Linked DNA regions of Homo sapiens. The protein of the gene in region 1 interacts with the protein of each later gene in a pairwise test. Each region holds a gene or a part of one and is shown on either strand. Other genes may lie near its edges.

Region 1 (7,790 bases):
CTGGGCAAAAAGAGCAAAACTCCGTCTCAAAAAAAAATTTAAAAAAAAAAAGGCTGGGCGCGGTGGCTCACGCCTGTAATCCCAGCCAAGGCGGGCGGATCACGAGGTCAGGAGATCGATACCATCCTGGCTGACACGGTGAAACTCCGTCTCTACTAAAAATACAAAAAAATTGGCCGGGCGTGGTGGCGGGTGCCTGTAATCCCAGCTACTCGGGAGGCTGAGGCAGGAGAAGGGCGTGAACCCAAGAGGCGGAGCTTGCGGTGAGCCGAGATCAGGCCACCGCACTCCAGCCTGGGTAACAGAGTGAAACTCGGTCTCAAAAAAAAAAAAAAAAATAGTGATAGATTTCTAATTTTTTCCCTGCCATACTTAAATGTGTTAATATAGTCAAGTCTGTGTTGTAGTTCAGTACATCATCTAAATATAATCAGTTCTATAGAGCAATGCTTCTGAAATATTAATGTGCATATGAATCACCTGGGGATCTTAATAAATTGCAGCAGTAAGTCTGGAAGAGGAGAGATTTTGCATTTCTATCAACCTCACAAGTGACACCGAGGCTTCTAGTCCATGGACCACACTTTTTGAGTAGCAAGGTTATAAAAGGTTCCTATACTGTTTGTTTTTTTAATTTGACAGATGTATACTATAAAAATGCAAAACATAAAAAAAAGTCAAAATAACAAATCTGGAAAAAACATTGCAACATCTGTGACAACATGCATATCTTTTTTTTTTTTTTTTTTTTTTTTTTGAGACGGAGTCTCGCTTTGCTGCCCAGGCTGGGGTGCAGTGGCATGATCTCGGCTCACTGCAACTTCTGCCTCCCGGGTTCAAATGATCCTCCTGCCTCAGTGCCCCTAGTAGCTGGGATTACAGGCATGCGCCACCATGCCTGGCTAATTTTTGTGTTTTTAGTGGAGGTGGGGTTTCGCCATGTTGACCAGGCTGGTCTCGAACTCCTGACCTCAGGTGATCCACCTGCCTCAGCCTCCCAAAGTGCTGGGTTTACAGGCGTGAGCCACCACGCCCGGCCAACATACATATCTTTGGTATGAGTTTTCTATTGCTGCAGAAAAATTACCATCCTATACTTTTAAAGTTTCAGAATCATCAATCTGAAAGATAGTACAAACTATTAAAATGGTTTACAAATGCCCATTACACATTTCCACCTTTATCTCCAACTACTTCAGCACCATCACCCACCCTGTGGGCACAAATGTACTCAAACCACACCTGACAACCCCTTACACAATGCTAAAATCTTAACTTCTTTAGTCTATCCAACCCTCCCTAACTCTATGCCAGAAAACAGACTTTGGTTTTGATAATACAGCAGGCCCAGCAAAAGTCAGTCATCAGTTTAGAGGTCCTCTCCTCTTTCCCCACTTCAACTGATTTTTGGTCTAATTTGGCCAAGCATTTCACCATTCTATAGTCCCATGACCTATGTATTCCAGATTTAGGCTGAGAAAATATGGATCTTTCTTTCTTTATTTTTTTTTTTGAGATGGAGTTTCGCTCTTGTCTCCCAGGCTAGAGTGGAATGGTGTGATCTCAGCTCACTGCAACCTCCGCCTCCTGGGTTCAAGCGATTCTCCTGCCTCAGCCTCTCGAATAGCTGGGATTACAGGCGCCCGCCACCATGCCCAGCTAATTTTTGTATTTTTAGTAGAGACGGGGTTTTGCCATGTGGGCCAGGCTGGTCTCGAACTCCTGACCTCAGGTGATCCGCCTTCCTTGGACTCCCAAAGTGCTGGGATTACAGGCATGTCACCACACCCAGCTGGATCTTTCTTTAATTTATAATTAATCTTGGCCGGGCACTGTGGCTCACACCTGTAATCCCAGCACTTTTGGAGGCCGAGGCAGGAGGATACCCTGAGATCAGGAGTTCAAGACCAACCTGGCCCACACGACAAAACCCCGTCTCTACTTAAAATACAAAATTTAGTTGGGCATGGTGGCAGGCGCCTGTAATCCCAGCTACTAGGAAGGCTGAAGCAGGAGACTTTGACCCCGGGAGGCAGAGGTTGCAGTGAGCTGAGATTGCGCCACTGCATTCCAGCCTGGGCGACAGAGCAAGACTGTGTCCCAAAAATAAAAAATAAAAATAAAAAATAATTTATCACTGCTCCATGTTTTTCTCATACAATTGTTTACACTGTGATATAATCAACATACTATAAACTCTACCCTTTTAAAATGTACAATTCAGTAGTTTTTAGTATATTCAGAGTTGTGCAACCATCACCACTGATTTTAGAACATTTCTTATTTTTTGTTTTTTATTTTTTTATTTTTAGAGACAAGGTCTTACTATGTTGCCCAGGCTGGTCTCGAACTCCTGGACTCAAGCAATCCTCCAGCCTCGGCAACTCAAAGTGCTGGGATTACAGGTGTGAGCCATCTCACCAGGCCCTGATTTTAGAACATTTCATTATCCCAAAAAGAATATTCTCACCTACACCGCCAGTCCCCCAACCTCTGGCAACCATTAAGCTTTCTGTCTCTAGATTTACCTACTCTGGCCATTTCATATAAATGGAATCACACAATATGCAGTCTTTCTGACTGACTTAGCTCACGTAGTGTGATGTTTTCAAGGTTCATTCATATTGTAGCATGCATCAGCAGTTCATTCCTTTCTAAGGCCAAATAATACTCCATTGAATGAATATATTAACACCATATTTTGTTTATCGATGCATCAGTCGTTATGTCCTTACAACATTCCTGTATTCGAATAAAGAACCAGGGCTCCAAGAGGTTCACTCACTTTATAACTCAAATAATAAAATGACATTTGGGGCCGAGCGCAGTGGCTCACGCCTGTAATCCCAACACTTCGGGAGGCCGAGGGGCAGGGGAAAGGGGGATCACTTGAGGTCAGGAGTTCAAGACCATCCTGGCCAACATGGCGAAACCCCGTCTGTACTAAAAATACAAAAATTAGCCGGGTGTGATGGCCGGCGCCTGTAATCCTAGCTACTCGAGAGGCTGAGGCAGGAGAATCGCTTAAACCGGGAGGCGGAGGTTGCAGTGAGCCGAGATGGCACCACTGCACTCCAGCCTGGGCAACAGAGCGAGACTCCAACTCAAAAAAAAAAAAAACAAAAAAAACGACATTTCTACTTTTTGGCGATTATGAATAATGATGCTATGAACATGGGCGGACAAGCTTTATGTGAACATACGTTATCAGTTTTCTTGGGTATATAGCCAGGAGTGGGCTTGCTGGGTCATAGACTAATTCTAATGCTTAATGTTTTGAGGAACTACCAAACTATTTTCCACCATTTTACATCCCCACCAGCAATGTACGAGAATTTCACTATTACATTTTCAACAAATGAGGATAATTCTTGAACGAACAGAGAGGTATGCTGCCACCGCAGAACGACAACCCACTACCCAGAAGACTGTATTAACAAAGCAGAAGTATATGTCCGGCAGGAAAACGGAGAATAAAATGTTGCAGGTCCAAGTGTATTAGGCAAGTGAGTTAACCTCGCAGAGCCCCGGTTCCTTATTCGAAAACAAAAAAAAGGGCCGCTGTAATGCCATTTTACCTTGCAGTCGCCGTGAAAATTAAATCAGTCAATCCGCGTAAAGGTACTTTACAACACTGATTATTCATGATTCGATCTCAGGCAAGGCATTAGGGGCAAACAGCTAAATGCCCAGATCCCTCCTCCTCGCAAAGGTTCCTTCCCCTCGGGAGGGTCCCTGAGCGGCATCGGGGGCTGCAGCCACTTCCCTTCCCCGGGAGAGCCGGCCTGCCAGCCACGCAGGATAAATTGCTAGAGCTGGAGCAGTAGATCCGTGCCACCCCTACCCAGCACCGCTCCCAGGAGAGAGATCTGCAGCCTGCTGCTAAGCTTAGTAAGTCCGCGCAGGATCTTTCTTTTTTAAATGGTAATAAACATATTTTTTGGGGTCGAAGCAGAAAAGGAGGGGCAAAGGGAACACAAGCATGTCCCCCCAACCTCTGATCTTAGTCTCGGTCTCTCCAACACCCCCCGCAACACACCCTCCTCCACATAAGGAAAACAAGTATGAAACCCGATCCTTTACGAACCCCAGCCCCAAGGGCCCTCACCTCCCCGCAAGGACAGAGGGTGCAAAGCTTACCTGGTGGCTTCCTCCGGCTCGACCAGGCTCTGGCCAGGCGCCTCCCGAGGGATAGTAGCCATCGCCTCCTCCGCCTTCTCCCAGCCAGGTGGTCTCCGCCGGGCCGCCCCCGCGCACCCGCCAGGAAATGGGAGGCTGGGGAGGTTCAGGGCGAAGAGGATATAAGGGTGGAGGTGGGTGTACCGGCACATCTCCACCCCCAGGCCCGTAGTAGCGGCCGTAGGACGGACCGTCACTGGGGCCGTAGCCCGAGCGCCTCAGGGCCGACATGGGATCCGCTGCCCTGAAGCGCTTCCCGCCCCGCTCCCCACGGCCGACCCATCGCGCAGGCGCCCGCGGGCGATTGCGAATGGAGAGCAGCGAAGGGGGTCGGACGACGCCAGCCAATCCCAGGCCCGGGCCCGCCCCTTCTGCTGCCGAACCCCGAAAGCTGAGGGACGGAGGTCAGTGACTCTGGGGTCTCGGGAACCCGGAGACGAAGGAAGACACCGTGTTCCTTAAGAGGGAGTATACGTTTCCTCGCCATTTATCCAATGGAGTTTCCTCTTACCTACTTAACAGGAACAGGGAAAGGGTGTCCCCCAACGGTACGGCTGCCCCGCCTCTTCCTGGGGGCCCACACGTGTTACAGGAAGTGGGTAAGGGTAATATGGAGGAGCTTCCGGCAGCCCCCGGCGGCTGAAAGCCGGGGCAGAAGTGCTGGTCTCGGTCGGGATTCCGGGCTTGGTCCCACCGAGGCGGCGACTGCGGTAGGAGGGAAGAGGTTTTGGACGCGCTGGCCTCCCGCCGCTGTGCATTGCAGCATTATTTCAGTTCAAAATGAACTATATGCCTGGCACCGCCAGCCTCATCGAGGACATTGACAGTGAGTAGTTTATCTCCTCCCGGTGGAGCCCGGGGTTAGACCCTTCCTCCCGGGCGGGCGCCTCTTCCGAAGAAGCTTGTAGAATGAGTCCCGGGCGGGGCCGGTGTGTTCTGAGCTCAATCCGGGCGTTCCGCGTCGATGTCCTCCACAGCTGCGGTACACACCGCTTGCCCACCCAGTAGCCTGCTGCTACTTCTGCCCCTCGCAGCCTCCGCCAGCCCTCTAGCTGGTGAGCCCCAAGCGATGGAACTCATTCTTGCTTCCGTGGATCGCGGCAGCAGAGGCCCGAACACGAAAGAAGCCCGGGGAGGGGGGGGGCTTCTCCCCCGTCCACTCCTGCCTGCAGTATTTCGAAGTATCAGCGTGTTACCGGTGGATGGATCGGAATACCTAGAGAGAGGATTCATTAAAAAGCGAAAATATTAAGACAGCGGCAGTTGGACTTAATTGGCAGTAAATGTAGGCGCTCTACGGTGTGGCCATTTGCTAGCTTATTTTACTGTGAGGGTCATTAGCACCTTCAGGTTATTGTAGTAGAGACCACTGTTAGACATGGTATTGACTTTTCTGGAAAGACCAAATCACTTGCAACCTTTTTTTTTTTTTTAAGACAATTTACTTTTGCTTTTACTAAGAAGACCTCCCTTATTCCTGGTTTTTGTCCGGAAGAGGAGCTCAGTCCTATACAAAAGCGAAAAGAACCGTCTGCAGTTGTTCTGGCTTTCCTTTTTTCTAAATTCCGTCTGTGCATTATTCCTCAAGCAACATTTTTTATTGTTTTAATCATGTGATCTTTCTCATTAACTTGTTTCAAGATGATTTACACATAGTTTTAAATAAGTTGCAATCGTCTCAGTTACTCTGTGAATACGCAATTTAGAATCTATGGTTAAAATTTCATTTTACGGGCCTGGCGCGGTGGCTCACGCCTGTAATCCCAGCACTTTGGGGGGCCGAGGCGGGCAGATCGCCTGAGGTCGGGAGTTCAAGACCAGCCTAGCCAACATGGTGAAACCCCGTTCCTACAATTAGCTGGGCACTATGGCGGTGCCTGTAATCCCAGCTACTCGGGAGGCTGAGGCGGGAGAATCGCTTGAACCCGGGAGGAGAAGGTTGCAGTGAGCCGAGATCGCACCATTGCACTCCAGCCTGAGCGACAGAGCAAGACTCCGTCTCAAAAAAAAAAAAAAAATCATTTTATGGTTGACAGATCTTTTTTCTTTTCTTTTCTTTTTTTTTTTTTTTTTTTGAGACAGAGTCTTGCTCTGTCGCCCAGGCTGTAGTGTGCAGTGGCGCGATCTCGACTCACTGGAACCTCCACCTCCCGGGTTTAAACAATTCTTGTGCCTCAGCCTCCCAAGTAACTGGGATTACAGGCGCCTGCCAGCACGCCCAGCTAATTTTTGCATTTTTTGGTAGAGACGAGGTTTCGCCATGCTGGGCAGTCTGGTCTCCAACTCCTGACCTCAGGTGATCCACCCACCTCGGCCTCCCAGAGTACTGGGATTACAGGCGTGAGCCACCGCCTCCGGCCGACAGATCATTTTTTTAAACACAAATTACTTATTGTGCTATGTAAGGGAAATGTAGTGTAATTGGACTAAATATATATTAACATCTATATGAACCTGTTACGTGTAACAGGATGTTTTAGTTGCTCGAGGATGCTCTTTTGCCCTCATCTCTCCTTATATATCCTCTAACACATCCTGCCATTTTACTAAAAATCAGTTTTGCTCTTTGGTCCTCTAACCCCTACCTCTTTGTAGATTCCAGACCCCCTACTTTATGAAAACTTTGAAGCCATTTGATATGCACCCTTTGCTCCCCAACCCTAACACACAGTTTCCTCCTTGTGTTTCTGTATTTTCACCCATCCTTTAATTTGAGTAGGAAGGATTCCTCCCTTTTTGTCTGTCTGTTGTTACTGTCTCCTCTCACTGCTTCTGGAACCTTTTTTCGTTGTTAGCCTTTTTCTTTTATATCCTCTGTCTCCCCAACCCCTGCGTTCTTCCCCTCATGTGTTACTGTCTATCCATCTCAAATATTTTCTCCGTTCTCTTCATATGCCCATCCCTTTTTTCATATCTTTATCCCCAAACCTCGAGTCATTTTCATTTTGTCTGTTTCTTGATCACCTTCAATAGACTACTTACATTACTCCTGCAATCTAATTTTTATCCTGAAATTACTCAAGCTGCATTCTTCAAAGTTATTCGTCTAAGGTCTTCTTCTGTGTTCTCTCCCCTTTGCAGCACTGTGATACTCTCCCCACCAGATTCTTTAATTCTCTTCTCTTGATTTCTCTAACAACTGGTACTTGGTGATTTTCTTACTTCTCTGGCTCTTACTGTTCTCCAAAATAGATGGTCACTTGGATTACATGTGGCCTACTTCTTTAAATCTTTAGTAGATCTCCTGTACTTTAGTTTTTTATATCACCTCTTTGTAGATTTATCCAAAATTGCTTTCTCTAATCTTGATGTCTTTGGTTTTCCAGTCTTACTGTTTCCAACTATCTGCGTGTGTTTCTATTAAGTGTCCTGATAGCACTTTAGAATCACAAAGAGCTAATAACCTTCACCCTGAGCTTGCTGCTTTTATTCCCAACTCTTGGTAAATAGTTTTGTGATGTCTCATAAAACTCCTACATCTTTACCTCACATCTTCAGCACCCCACCCTCTCACACATACCCACTTATACAAACTCAGTAAACAGACTCCATCACTTAATGTTTTCTTGTTCCCTATGAAGTCAAATCCAGATGCAGCCTGCGCCCAGTAC
Region 2 (7,024 bases), on another chromosome or scaffold:
CTGTTGTTGTTGTTGTTGAGAAAGGGTCTCTCTCTGCCATCCAGGCTGGAATGCAGTGGCTCAATCATGGCTCACTGTAGTCTCGACTTTCTTGGGTTCGGATGATCCTCTCAGGTCAGTCACCTGAGTAGCTGAGACCACAGTGGCTGATGCCTCCACTCCCGGCTAATTTTTTTGTCTTTTTTATAGAGGAGAGGTTTTGCCATGTTGCTCAGACTGGTCTTGAACTCTTGGGCTCAAGCAATCTACCCATTTTAGCCTTCTAAAATGCTGGGATTACAGGTGTGAGCCACTGCACCCAGCTGTAAACATTTATAGATAAAAGTATTTGCTTCAGAATAACCTACGCTGGGCCTAGGAACGGAAGAGAGCATGCAGGTAGCAAGATTAGTTATGTATTGATAATTGGTAAAACTGGCTCGTGGGTAAATCAGGCTCATTATTCTTTTCTCTCTATTTTTGTGTATGTTTGAAAATGTCCAGAATGAGTTTTTCGAAAGGGGATGGTGTGCAGCCCTAGGCTCATCTGAACTGCATGTTCTCCACAAAGATTGCACAGTTTGGGGTATGGGTATTGTGTCCGCCACCTGGTAAGGATAGGGGTCTTTCCTAATCTTTCTTAGACCTCCATCTACAAAACTCCAGGGTTTTGGTTGTAACTATAGCCCATTATCTCCACTCTTTGTTCCTCAGCTTTTCCTGTATTCGCTACACGACATTAGAAAATGTGGAGACTCAGCTTAATTTAAATGGACATATTTAATGATTAAGCCCTGGAGTCCTAGTATCTATTCTCCTCCCCCTACCCAAAGGGTTTTCTTTTCTAACTTTTAGTCAATATCCTACTCCTGACAAAACTGTATCCTTGCAATGGTGCTGGAGCATGTGGATTATAAGCACACAACATTCCCAGTCTTTCCAAACAGACCTCTGTGGGGAGCTGCTGGCTGCTCCCAACAGGCGTGACCTGTTAAAACGGGGCAGACTGGCGACAGAGTGAGACTCTGTCTCAAAAAAAAAAAAAACGGGGCCGACTGTCCCAAGTGCACCTGAGTGCATTGTGCTCTATGCATTGGCGGCAGCATAACACGGGGCCAAGAGCTCAGGCCTGGACTGAGACCTGGTTTAGATTTCAGCTCTATTGTAATCTCAGCCTGTCTGTGGTCTCGAGAAAGCTACTAAACCTCTCTGGATCTCTTTTTTGTTATCTGTAATATGGGAATCATCATAATATTTACCTCACAGCTTTATTGTAAGGATAAAGCCTGAAAATGCTGAGCAGAGGGCCAGTTACCTAGTCAGTGCCCAGTAAACTAGTCCACTTATCAACCATGGTGGCATGCATAATGAATAGATCCATCCATCCGGGCATGCATGATGGTCAGATCTACCAGAATGTCCAAGCACTCTCTGAATGAAAAAGCCTGGACATGGCCTGCTGTGGCCTCAGGGTATGGGCTCTCAGCTCACATCAGGCTGGCACTGGCCTCTGTATGAGAGTCCTAACCTCTGCCCTCACACCCTCCCACATGCCCATGTCAAGCTCCACAAGGTACCTGTGTCCTCTGGGGAGCCATAGGAGGGGCTGCCCTGGGATAAGGTAGCCCAGCTTGAGTCCTCATCACTGGCTGCACTGTTCCGCATGCCAAACAGGAGGCTGGCACTCTTGCTGTGTTCCCGGGGGCCATCTGTAAGGGCTTGGGGCCTGGGAGGGGCCTCCACACTCTCCAGGGGCTCAGGCAGCCCTGGGGGAGAAGATAAGTCCTCCTCCTCCTCTTCATCATCATCATCCTCCTCCTCCTCCTCGGCCTCCCCGGCCGCCTTCTCCTCTCCCTCATCTGGCCCCTGCTCTTGAGTGCTGATGATCAGGCCAGGTCCTCGTAGGCCTCGGTTGGCTGCGTTGTGAGCTGAGAGCTCCAGCTCAGAGTACAGGTGTATCAGGCCTTTGGGGCCCAAGGGTGCCATCTCAGGCTCCTGGCTGGCCTCCTCCGCCAAGGTCAAGGTCACATTGCGATTCTGGTCACGGTGGGCCGTGGCGGCCCGCCGGAGCTGGTTCTGGCCCTCTTTTAGCCACTTGGCATTGGCAGGGCCTGGCTCAGGCCCACCACCCTCCCCCATGGCGCTGCGCAGGTCCTTGGGTCCCACAGCTGTGGCCTGCAGCTTGGCGTTGAGCAGCTGGTTGTGGGCAGCGTGCAGAGGCAGGGGTAGGCTCAGTGCGGGGCCTCCGTGGCTGTTGGCATTAATGGCCGACTGGCTCAGTGATGATGGAACAGACATGGCCTTGGCAGCTCCTGTGGGGTGCGGAGGGGAGATGCTGTTGAGCCTCTGGTCCAGAACAGCAGCATCACTGCTTCTGCCCCAGGGCTATGCCCTGTGCCTCCTCATCTCCCTGCACTAAGCAGGCTAGCACCCATGGCTCTCTATCCTATGAGAATGACTGGGTTCAACTTCTGTCCCAGCACTATCATCCCCATCACAGTCCAGGCCCAGGTCTGAGGCCCACCCCATCCCTATATCCCCTGCCCTGAGCTTTCTGGGATGGCACAGCTGGCGCCTGCCCTCGGTCCCACCAGCAAGGCCTCCACACAATGGCTCTCTGTGCCTCCCCACCCCCCAGCTCATCCACCCGGGGCTTACTGTGCCAGGAACACCACTAGAGTGGGACCGGCTCGTGTGTTTTGGACACTGATCACTGACTGCCCCTCTCCGGCCGCACTTCCATCCCAAGCCCCATCACTGTAAGCTCCTCCGGCTGTGTTCCTATTCCCATAAATCACTCAGCTCAACCAGCCCCCAAGCCCACCCCATACTAGGGACTGTGAGGACAGGAGCAAATAAGCTGCAGAACCAGCCCTACAGGGCATGGCACTGGAAGGCAGGTCACAGAGGGAGGGCGCTCGGCTGCAATTCATGGCTTCTCTGGCCAGATGAAGCTACATCTTGGTGACAATTTCCATGAAGTAGCTCCCCTTGGGCACTGGTCCCTCTGCCAGCCCTCATAATGCCCTGTCCTGGATCACTATGGGAGCCTTTCCCCTGGGCCCCTCAGCCTTTCAGATCTTTGTTTTTTGGGGGTTGTTTGTCTGTTTGTTTGTTTTTGAGACAGAATCTTGCTCTTGTTGCCCAGGCTGGAGTGCAATGGCACAATCTTGGCTCACTGCAACCTCTGCCTCTCGGGTTCAAGTGATTCTCCTGCCTCAGCCTCCTGAGTAGCTGTGATTACAGGTGCCCACCACCACGCCCAGGTAATTTTTGTATTTTTAGTAGAGACGGGGCTTCACCATGTTGGTCAGGCTGATCTCAAACTCCTGACCTCGTGATCCGCCCACTTCGGCCTCCCAAAGTGCTGGGATTACAGGCATGAGCCACTGCGTCCGGCCCAGCCTTTCAGATCTTTGACCAAATGTCACAGCCTCAGTGAAGCCTTCCCTGAACACCCATTTTAAAACCACAGGCTACCTCCGCCCCTCCTCAGCAATCCCTAAACTCTTCCCCAGCGCCTGTCACCATCTGACAAGCCAATTTATTATTTACTTTGTCTAATGATTGTCTCCTCATGACTATAATTTATAATTTCCATGTTGGTGAGGATTTTGCCTTTTTGGTTAAATACAGTATGCCTAGTGCCTAGCGTAGTCCTGGCACAGAGCAGGAACTCCATTAATATTTGCTGAATGAATGTATGAATCAGTCCCCATTTCCTCCAGGCTTCGCTTTGGCATCTCCTCTGCCAGTGTCAGAAAACACTTTGGTTACGTTACTATGCCTTATGGTGCCCCAAACAAACTCCACCTGCCTCTCAGGTAAGAGGACGTCCTGTTCCGCAAGGACAGCTCCCCCTCCAGACCCCTCCCTCTGCCTCCTCACAGCCCTTCGTGGGTCAGTTTCTCCGCAACCATTTGAGTCCCAACTATCCTTCCAGCCCGCCACCCAGGGACCCACCCTCGGCCCCATTCCATCCTCCCCACTCTCCCTGACCTTCCAGTTGCTCTGCTGCTCTCCTTCCCGGACCCCCAAGAGAAAGTGCTCTCTCCCTGGACCCTCACCAGCCCCCGATTTCAGTTATTTCTCCCTGACCAACCACTGCCCACTTCTCTCTCATCCTGAGCCCTCCATGCAAGCCCTCCTTCAGACAGCCCCTACCACATTACTCTCTCCTCCCTCGATGGCCTCACTGATTCTCTTGCCCTACCCGACCCTTCCCCCAACAGACAATTCTCCCTCACTGACCATCCCAACAAACACTGCACTGTGCTCTTTCTCATTCCCACTGTACAGACCTTTCTCCTTGATGTCTTATCTGAGAGTTCCCTATCTCCCTGTTCCTCTACTAAGGAGTTCTTTCTTTCCCTGACTCACCACTACCCCCCTTCCCTCTGTGTTCTCAGCGCTGAGCACAGGTCTTGCAGCTACCTGAGCAGGGCTTGCCCATCTCTCCAGGTGCGGTGCGCCCAGGCTGGAGTGCAATGGCACGATCTCAGCTCACTGCAACCTCCTGCAGCCTCCTGAGTAGCTGGGATTATAGGTGCCCACCACCACGCCCAGCTAATTTTTGTAATTCTTTTTTTTTTTTTCTTTTAAGTAGAGATAGGGTTTCACCATGTTGGCCAGGCTGGTCTCAAACTCCTGACCTCAGGTGATCCACCCGCCTCAGCCTCCCAAAGTGCTGGGATTACAGGCGTGAGCCACCGCGCCCGGCCCCATAGCTCACCTTTCTACGTCTCTAGTTCCTCAGACACTAGTGCTATGCTACCCACACATCTGTAAGATGAAAAAGGTTTCTGCGCACGTGTCTGCCTCACGTGGGGCTGTTGATCTGCTCAGTGTGACTCCTCCTGGCCAATGAGAAAACTCACAGCCACTGGAATAAATGAAGAAAAAAATAGCTCTACCTCCTCCCAGAACCACAGTAATCTTCCAAAAATGGAAACCAGATTGTGTCACTCCCTGGTTCAGAAAATGAGAGGGCTCACCACTGCCTTTCGGATAACGCCTGCACTCGTTCGCAGACACCCAAGAGCCCTCTTAAGCCGGCCTCTATAACCTGTCAGTCCCCTCCCCACCTCCCGCCTCCTTTATACCTTATACTCTAGCCACATGAAGCGTGGCGGATTCTGAAACATGTCGCACACTCTTAAAGCCCTGGGTCTTTGTTTATACTGCTCCCTCGGCCTGGAATTCTGTCTCCCCTTGTGAGAACCTCTGCTTGTATTTCAAAACTAACCTCAGCAGTTACAGCTCCTAAGCAGTCTTTCCTGTTCTCTCCCCACCATCAAGTGACTGTTCTCTCCTTCGTGTCTCACAACACCCAGAACCACATTCTATCAGAATATCTGAGACGGTGTCTTATTCAATTTCACATTCCCATTACCAAAGAGAGTGTGCCGTGTGCCGACACAGACTGGGCTGTTGCAGAAGGAAAGGACGGATGAACGGGACAGACACAGGGGGTGGGAGGATCCAGGAAGCTCAGAACTGGCTGGGAATAAATACCAAGAAAGGCTGTGTGGCCCAATGGGCTGGGGAGGAGCAAAGGGAGTGTTTGGGAGGGTGTCAGAGAATGCCAAAGGGTCCCTGAGTGGGAAGTAAGATGGGACAGGAATCCTGGAGAGGTGAGGGCTGAGATCTAGGAAAAGGGAGCGAGGGAGGTAGCTTAAACCAACATCTTGGCACAGACACTGTTCAAGAGTGGCATCTCCATGGGTGTCAGGAAGCAGAAGACTCCACGACTCTGCCATGCTCAGAGGACCTTAAGGATGGCAAACCCTTCTCTGAAGCAGTAGTGTACAGAGCCAGGTTTCTCAAAGGTCAGGCAGAGACCAACCTCCTAGGCACTAGGAGATATGATCTGAGAAGAGTGCATGCACTGTGAGGCTGAAACAGTGAAGAGCCAAGTTGACCTCAGGGCAGCCCCGCCAATCTGGTCACCAGGGCAGGAAGTATTAGAGGAAGAATGGTGAAACTGTTTAAGTGCTGAAGCCTGAGCATCTAGCCTGAGGTGGTGTGGTCACCAACACCCCACTGCTCGAGGTCAAAAAGATGATCTCAGTCCAATTTTTTAAAGAAGGAACACAACCTAATCTCTCCCCTCTCATTGGAGTTACCAAAGGATGCAAAGAGCCAACTGGGTTCTGGCTCAAGGCAGGGAGTTGGGCAGGGGCCTCGGGGCAGGAAGTGAAAGAAGTAGTCACTAAGCCTGAAGATCCTGGCATCAGACCACAGGGGTTGGGGTTGAGTCTTGCTCAAAGTCAGGAGTTGTCTAATCTGACAGCTTCCCATATGCCAGGCACTGTGCTAGACACAGGGGAGAGTGATGAAGACAAAAGAAATGGTTCTTCCTCTGGAGGAGTTCTCAGTTCAGCGGGAAACAGTCATTGAACAACTTGTTACAATGCAGTGTAACACCAACATCTAGAACAGTGCCTGGCACCCATAGCATTCCCTATTTGTTGACTGAATATCATGAAGGAGGAAGAGGAGGGCATTACAGGAACCTGGGGCTTACTACAGCCAAGACATCAGCAAAGGCCTGCCTGAGACTAGGACATAACTCTCCATTGGCCACCCGTCTCAGAGGCTGATCTCCCCTCCTGATTCACAGAGGAAAGGGAAGCCATCCAACTGGGTAACATCCTCAAACATAAAAACCTAACCAAACTTCAGCACCTATCCCTTTCTCTCCTTCCCAAAACCAACTGCTTCACCTATGATTTGGATTCTTCCTATGATGCCTTTCCAGGAATTTTATACCACTGTTTATCTATTTTCTCCTCTATATGATCAACCTCTCCTTCTCAATAGGATCCACGGTCTCCCAACTTGACCTGACGCTCCTCCAGATCCACTCACTGCTCTCTTTCCTCCCCCATACAGGCAAACTTCCTGAGAGAGTTGTCTCCACTCACTGTTGCCACTTCCTCACCTCCCACTCACTCCTCAACCCTTTCCAAACCTGCTTCCACTCCCAACACGACTCAGTAACAGCTCCTACCAAGGTCAACATGACCCCTGTGTCATTCAATCC
Region 3 (6,962 bases), on another chromosome or scaffold:
GAAGAGCCCTAGACTGTCACATAATCCTAAGGTTTCAGCTAGGCTGAAGGGGAGCTGTGGAGCCAAAGACTTCAATTACAGAAGCCCTGTAACTTACAGAAATGCAACTGAATAGTGCTAGTTATTGGCAAGGATCAGCCCATGGGATTCATGACCTCAGCATGAATGTGCTAGTGGATTCAGAGGGTCAGCAACTAGAACCATCAATCAACAATACTTCCCACAGCAGGAGATCTAAGTGGTGCATTTTCATGGCGCCAGATTATCTTATAAATTTTTAACTGAGCTAAAAATTCCTGATGTATGGCTGCTCCACCATTTGTGATTACTTCAGTTTTTTCAGTTTATATTAATTAATGATATAATAATATGGACTCAATTGCACTAAATATTTTTAAATGACCATTTGGTCTTCAATTGATTTTCAAATGGTTCAGAAAAAAATAATAATGTATTCTTCAATATGAAGGGAGAATGAGAAAGCAAATATAGCAAAACTGAGAACTGGGAAATGCAGTGAAGGGCATGTGGGGTTTTTCTCAAAAACATTCTATAAGTTTGAAATTATTTCATAATAATTTTTTTAAAAAAAGATCACTTACATAATGATGGGAGATCTTTTTTCTTTGTTTCATTTTGTTTTTTAACTGTGACAGGGTTTCCCAACTCTATCTGATATTAAAAATTATGTCAAAGGAGCTTCTTAAATGCAGGTTTTCACACCTGACTCTAATCTATTAAACTAGGATCTTTAGAGAAAGAGCCTAAAAATCTTAACCCCAAGTGCTTCTTATGATGTGTTAAGTTTAGAAAACATTACCTGGTGACCTTGAGAAGTGTATTTAAATAAAAAATTAAACAAAAGAAAAAATAAAATACAATAATAGTTAAAAAAAATAAACCAGGTGATATGGTTTGGCTGTGTCCCCACCCAAATCTCATCTTGAATTGTAACTCCCACAATTCCCATGTGGAACCCAGTGGGAGGCGATTGAATTACGGGAGTGGGTCTCTTCTGCGCTGTTCTCATGATAGGGAATGAGAATCATGAGATATGATGGTTTTAAAAACGAGAGTTCTCTGCACAGGCTCTCTCTTTGCCTGCCACCATCCGTGTAAGACGTGACTTGCTTCTCCTTGCCTTTCATCTTCCACCATGATTGCAAGGCCTCCCCAGCCCCATGAAAGTAAGTCCAATAAATCTCTTTCTTTTGTAAATTGACCAGTTTCAGGTATGTCTTTATCAGCAGTGTGAAAACGATTAATACGCCAGGCAATATTAAGCATTGGCAGACATGAAAAAGCAGGAATTCTCATACATTATAGATACCAAATTTGGACATTTTTCAGGATTGACTTCTATGACACTGAAAAATATCCACACATATATAGAAACGACTGTTCTAGAAATTTCAAAATTTGATATTAGTATGAAAATTTTATGTACACAGAAGTTCAATCAACATCATCTATGATAATGAACACTACAAACAACCCAAACATCTATAAATATGAAAATGAATATGTGTGTACAATAGCAAAGACTTGGGACCAACCCAATGCCCATCAATGATAGACTGGATAAAGAAAATGTGGCACATATACACCATGGAATACTATGCAGCTATATAAAAGATGAGTTCATGTCCTTTGCAGGGACATGGATGAAGCTGGAAACCATCATTCTCAGCAAACTAACACAGGAACAGAAAAACAAACACCACATGTTCTCACTCATAAGTGGGAGTTGAACAATGAGAACATATGGGCACAGAGAGGGGAACATCACACACTGGGGCCTGTCTGGGGGTGGGGGGGCAAGGGAAGGGATAGCATTAGGAGAAATACCTAATGTAGATGATGAGTTGATGGGTGCGGCAAATCACTCCATGGCACATGTATACTTATGTAACAAACCTGCATATTCTGCGCATGTATCCCAGAACTTAAAGTATAATAATAATAATAATAATAATAATAATAATAATAATAATAAGAAGAAGAAGAAGAAGAAGAAGAAGAAGAAGAAGAAGAAGAAGAAGAAGAAAATGAATATGTGTGTATTATCTTTGTTTTTGAAGGGAGATATTTGGACTGATTTAGAGTAAAATGTGAATAGTATATTTCCTGTAGCGGGGATAAAACTGATATTATCCTTCTACCTTACCTGTGTTTTCTAATTTTGCTGAGGGCTTTTTCTGGTACCTTGGGAACTTGCTCAGCCCAGGTGTAGGACAACTTAAAAGTGCCAGAGATTTTAACATCCTCAGCGTGACATCCACCAATAGAGGGCCAAGTCTGTAGAAAAATACCCCAACTTCTCATCACTAGTTAGGATAATTCTGAGGAGCACTCTAAATCATTTCTGAGACTTGGAGGGTCCCCAGCAGATTTGAGCCAGTTGCCTTTTGGTCTTGTCAGGATCTGGTGCTGTATTTAAAACAACTTTTCCATTCTATTATATAAAAAATAACATGCTAAGTTCTATTTTTAATGGTTTAATGTCTTTTATGCAAACATTTAGTGTCTATTTTTAAGTGTATGAGAATGATAAGGCACTTCATTGTTTTTGAAAATAGTCAATTATCCCGATACAATTTCTTCAATCTAACCTTTCCCCACTGATTCAAAATATTTCAATGCATTTACTAGCATTTTTTCCATATTTGGGTTTGATAATTGAATTTCTTTTCTGGTTCATTTGTTCTAAATTTATTCTGGTACACTATTATCTTAACATTGTAATTTCACAATACTTTTTAAACTTTTATTTTAAGTTCAGGAATACATGTGCAGCTTTGTTATATAGGTAAACTGATCCTCTCCCTCCTCCCATCCTCCACCCTCCTGTAGGCCCCAGTGTTGTTCCCCTCTATGTGTCCATCACAATACATTTTCATCTGTCAGGGTAGCTTCCCCAAATTATTGTCCTGAATCATCAGGGCTAGGTGTTATTGTAAATTGTGGTTACACTAATACAATTTAGAGGAGATCATCAGTTTGTCACAGGTTCTCAAGACATGAAAATCCACCAGAGAGGCTCTATTAGACTCAATGCATCATTTCACGGAAGGACATGTAGAGATCCTTCACGAGAAAATCACTTCTTTCCTTCTTTCCTTCCTCTTTTCTTTTCTTTTCTTCTTCCTTTCTTTCTCTTTCTTTCTTTCTTTCCTTCTTTCTTTCTTTCCTTCTTTCTTTCTTGACAGAGTCTCACTCTATCGCCCAGGCTTGGTGTGCAATGGTGCTACCTCGGCTCACTACAACCTCTGCCGCCCAGGTTCAAGCAATTCTCCTGCCTCAGCCTCCCGAGTAGCTGGGATTACAGGCGCCTGCCACCACGCCCAGCTACTTTTTGTATTTTTAGTAGAGACGGGGTTTCACCATCTTGGCCAGGCTGGTCTTGAACTACTGACCCCGTGATCCACCCACCTCGGCCTCCCAAAGTGCTAGGATCACAGGCACGAGCCACCGCTCCCGGCCTTATTTCAAAGTCCTTAAAGGAGGCAGGGGAATGCTTTCTGGAAGGTTTATATTTATAATATGATTCAGCAGGAGAAACAGATTGCCATGTTTTTACAACTCGAATCCTGTTTTTTCAACTGAAAATAATTGTATTGTCTAGTTATAAAAACAACAACAAAATGAATGCATGCTGATGAAAAATAAAAGGAACCCCCTTCCCAAATAAACAAACAAAAAGGAAAGTAGTTGAAGTGAAAAAAAAATTTGAATACCACTTCCTGCCTATTTTCCAGACTTCCTAGCCTCTCGCTCCCCACCCCTTCTCCGGGTTCCAATCTGGGACCAAGCCCTACAAGACTGTTAGGGCTTTACTTGCTGGACGTGAAGGGGAGAGAAGTGTGCGTTTAGGTGTATAGAAGAGGAAGAAGCGATTTTTTAAAAGCTCCAGCAGAAACCAGAGCAAGCCAAATACAAAATATTATGACCCGTTTGGTCGTGGGGATCGCTAAATAAAAAAATAGAGGGGTGGATAGTAGCCTGTGGTAGTGGTGGAGAAAGCACGAATGAAGAGAAAGGTGGCCCCGCCCACAGTCCCGCCCCCACCCTCCTGCCGCACTGCGGGTGTGAATGGTAATTGGAAATCTGAGCTCACAGTGACGTGACCCTTAGGAGACCCAGAGCCAATGCGTGGATTAGTCCCTCCTCCTAGTTGCAGTCTGGTAGTTGTCGCTGGCCGTGTGACGGCTCGCTGTTGCCCTGAAGGCAGGCGAGCCAGCTGCCCAGGAAAGGTGGAAAGTGGTAGAAGCTGACCCCTGAGCCCTGGCAGGTAGGTGGCGCTGACCGGTGTGTGAGCAGCAGAGGGCAAAGACCAGAGCGGGTCTAGGACTGGATACACACCCTTTCCAGATACACACCCGTTTAGTGCGAGAAATGGAGCGGTTGGGGAGAGGATCTCCCGAGGGGGCTGGATTGAGAATGGGTACCATTTGAGATCTCCTAGGAGGCCGGCCATCGGGCAATGTCTGATGGAGTCCAGCCGGTGGAGGAGACTGAAAGGAAACAGCCTGCTTCCTGCAGGTCCGCGGGAGGGAGGTACAGCCGGCAACCAAGGGTTGGGGAGGGCGGACCCTGCCAAGGTTTTAGGCCTGCCTTCTAGGTATCTTTTCTTCACCCTCTACCCATTTAGAGCTGGAAATGATAGGCTGCGGGGGCCGAGGAGAGGAATTGCTGCAGAGGAGGGGGACAGAGATTAGGTCTGGAAAGCAGGTCCCTATTGCGGCAGTTGAGCGGGCGAGCTTCTGACTGAGGGACAGAGGCGAGGAGCGAGAAACTGTTTTTGGTCTCAGCAGGTCGGTCGGTGTAAGCGTGGGCGCTACCTGTAGATCCTGGAGTGAGAATGACAAAGCGCAGAGACCGCAGCAGGTCCTAGTTTTCAATGCCCACATACCTCTTCACTCATCGTCCATCTTGATGCATAAAATGGTGGGCATGGGAGTGGGGATCGGGTGGAGAGAGGGCCTGATGGATATCTAGATTGAAATTCTTTGTGAATAAACTACGTATTCATTCAGCAAGCTCTTCTAACTCCCCCGCCAGGCAAGTTGCCTGCGTTGCAGAAAGGGTAACTAGATGACAGGTAAGAGGAAACAGTAGAGATGGGCGCCTAAAGAAGAGGTTAAAACGTTTTGGAAATAATCATCTTTGATGCCTATTTCTGGAAGGTGGGATAGCCTGTCACAGGGTGGGAAAAGAAGCCGTGAGACAGGATGGAGGAGAAACAGAAGGTGCTAATACTAGGAGAACCCTAAATCAACTCCCATTACCGGTCCTTTGATTAAAAGATCAGTCCTGGTAATTGTCACATTTGTCTGCAGGTCTTTAAGTGCGTTTGTGCAGCCGATTTCAAGGCTAAGAGAGAAAGACTGCCTCTGATCCCTGAAGGTAGGAGGTTGCCTGGGGCCCTCTGGTGTAGGGGTATCAAGGATCAGAGCAGAATCTGGGTGACTCACAGCCCTTCCTGCCCGAGTTGAGTGCAGGAGAAACTTAGGAGAGTCTTCATAAAATGACAGCCTGTATCTGATGAGGGAAGAAGGGAGTAGAGGGGCGAGATCTGGGGCGCTCCTGGAGAGCTTATTAGGATCCCAGGGAGGTGAAGTCTGGTCTCTCTATGATCGTCCCCCTCCGCTAAGTCGTCTTGCATTTTGGCGGTAGGAGTGGCCTGGGGAAGGGATTTTCAGGGAAAATGATGGGCTTTGGGGCAGCGCTGGGTCTGGGGCGCCCCCTACAGGGTTCATAAAGTTTCTCAGGTGGGAAAACCTTTGCCAAACAGAGCTCTGAATCCTATCAAGCATTCATTCCCTCTTCTTGCTTTTTATCTTCTAGGAAGAAAAAAAAAAAAAAAACAGGAAAAAAACTCAACATGGAAAATGTCCCCAAGGAAAACAAAGTTGTGGAGAAGGCCCCAGTGCAGAATGAAGCCCCCGCTTTAGGAGGTGGTGAATACCAGGAGCCTGGAGGAAATGTTAAAGGGGTTTGGGCTCCACCTGCCCCGGGTTTTGGAGAGGATGTGCCCAATAGGCTTGTCGATAACATTGATATGATAGATGGAGATGGAGATGATATGGAACGGTTCATGGAGGAGATGAGAGAGCTAAGGAGGAAAATTAGGGAACTTCAGTTGAGGTACAGTCTGCGCATTCTTATAGGGGACCCTCCTCACCATGATCATCATGATGAGTTTTGCCTTATGCCTTGAATCTTGAGGTTAATAATCATAAAATCCCTGCTTTCTAAATTCGCATTTTTCCTGGTGTACCTTTAATGTGAACCTTTTGGCATTCTTCTGCAATTTTCTGATTGGAGATTGCATTTTGACCTAGTCTGTAAGTTTTTCTGTCAGAAGAGGACTTTCATCAACTTTCATGGAAAGATGTTTATTGCATACTGTAAAGTTAATAAAGCAATTTAAAAGCAGTCTACAGATAGACTATTTCATTTAGATGTGTACGTATGCACACTATATATAATATATATGAAATATATATATATATATATATATATATATATATATATATATATGAATGAATGAAAACCAGAATGTGCTTTTTCTATGTTGTATAGTTACTGGTACTTTTAAATTTCTTTATTTTTTTCTTGGTTATCCACTTTTTCTCACTTTTCCAAAATGAATACATGTGTTTCCTATGTTTCAGGGAAAAAAAAAGTAAGAAGCAAGGAACTTGCCAATCAACTTATATAGGAAATGGGGGCAATTAATAAACACTTGAAACACAGTTTAAAGACATATAAATCTTATATTACCTATGGATCTCTCATTTAGAAACATGTACCTGATAATTACAGGTACGTTACATTATAAATGCCTTAGACGGCTGCTGTGGGAATCAAATGAGGTGATGACTGAGCTCTGTGTCTTGCTCTATTTATACATGCAAGGCTCCAGCCCTCTAAGTGCCCTTCATATTTAGGGAAGATTC

The links. Proteins that work in one complex are often made in the same cells at the same time.
Region 2: the proteins of LSM1 (region 1) and APBB1 interact in binary tests that used the Homo sapiens proteins (3 or more experiments, as listed by UniProt).
Region 3: the proteins of LSM1 (region 1) and BEX5 interact in binary tests that used the Homo sapiens proteins (3 or more experiments, as listed by UniProt).

The regions. Positions count from the first base shown.
Region 1 is NC_000008.11:38,173,490-38,181,279, reverse strand, and holds the start of LSM1 (U6 snRNA-associated Sm-like protein LSm1), read left to right. Parts: upstream 1-4,786; 5' UTR 4,787-4,959; coding exon 4,960-5,005; intron 5,006-7,790. Other genes in the region: BAG4 (BAG family molecular chaperone regulator 4), read right to left, coding at 4,141-4,410. UniProt on the Homo sapiens protein: Plays a role in the degradation of histone mRNAs, the only eukaryotic mRNAs that are not polyadenylated. Probably also part of an LSm subunits-containing complex involved in the general process of mRNA degradation.
Region 2 is NC_000011.10:6,409,071-6,416,094, forward strand, and holds part of APBB1 (amyloid beta precursor protein binding family B member 1), read right to left. Parts: intron 2,292-7,024; 5' UTR 2,278-2,291; coding exon 1,557-2,277; intron 1-1,556. UniProt on the Homo sapiens protein: Transcription coregulator that can have both coactivator and corepressor functions. Adapter protein that forms a transcriptionally active complex with the gamma-secretase-derived amyloid precursor protein (APP) intracellular domain.
Region 3 is NC_000023.11:102,153,188-102,160,149, reverse strand, and holds BEX5 (protein BEX5), read left to right. Parts: upstream 1-4,172; 5' UTR 4,173-4,291; intron 4,292-4,359; exon of another isoform or gene 4,360-4,557; intron 4,558-5,339; 5' UTR 5,340-5,406; intron 5,407-5,847; 5' UTR 5,848-5,884; coding exon 5,885-6,220; 3' UTR 6,221-6,438; downstream 6,439-6,962.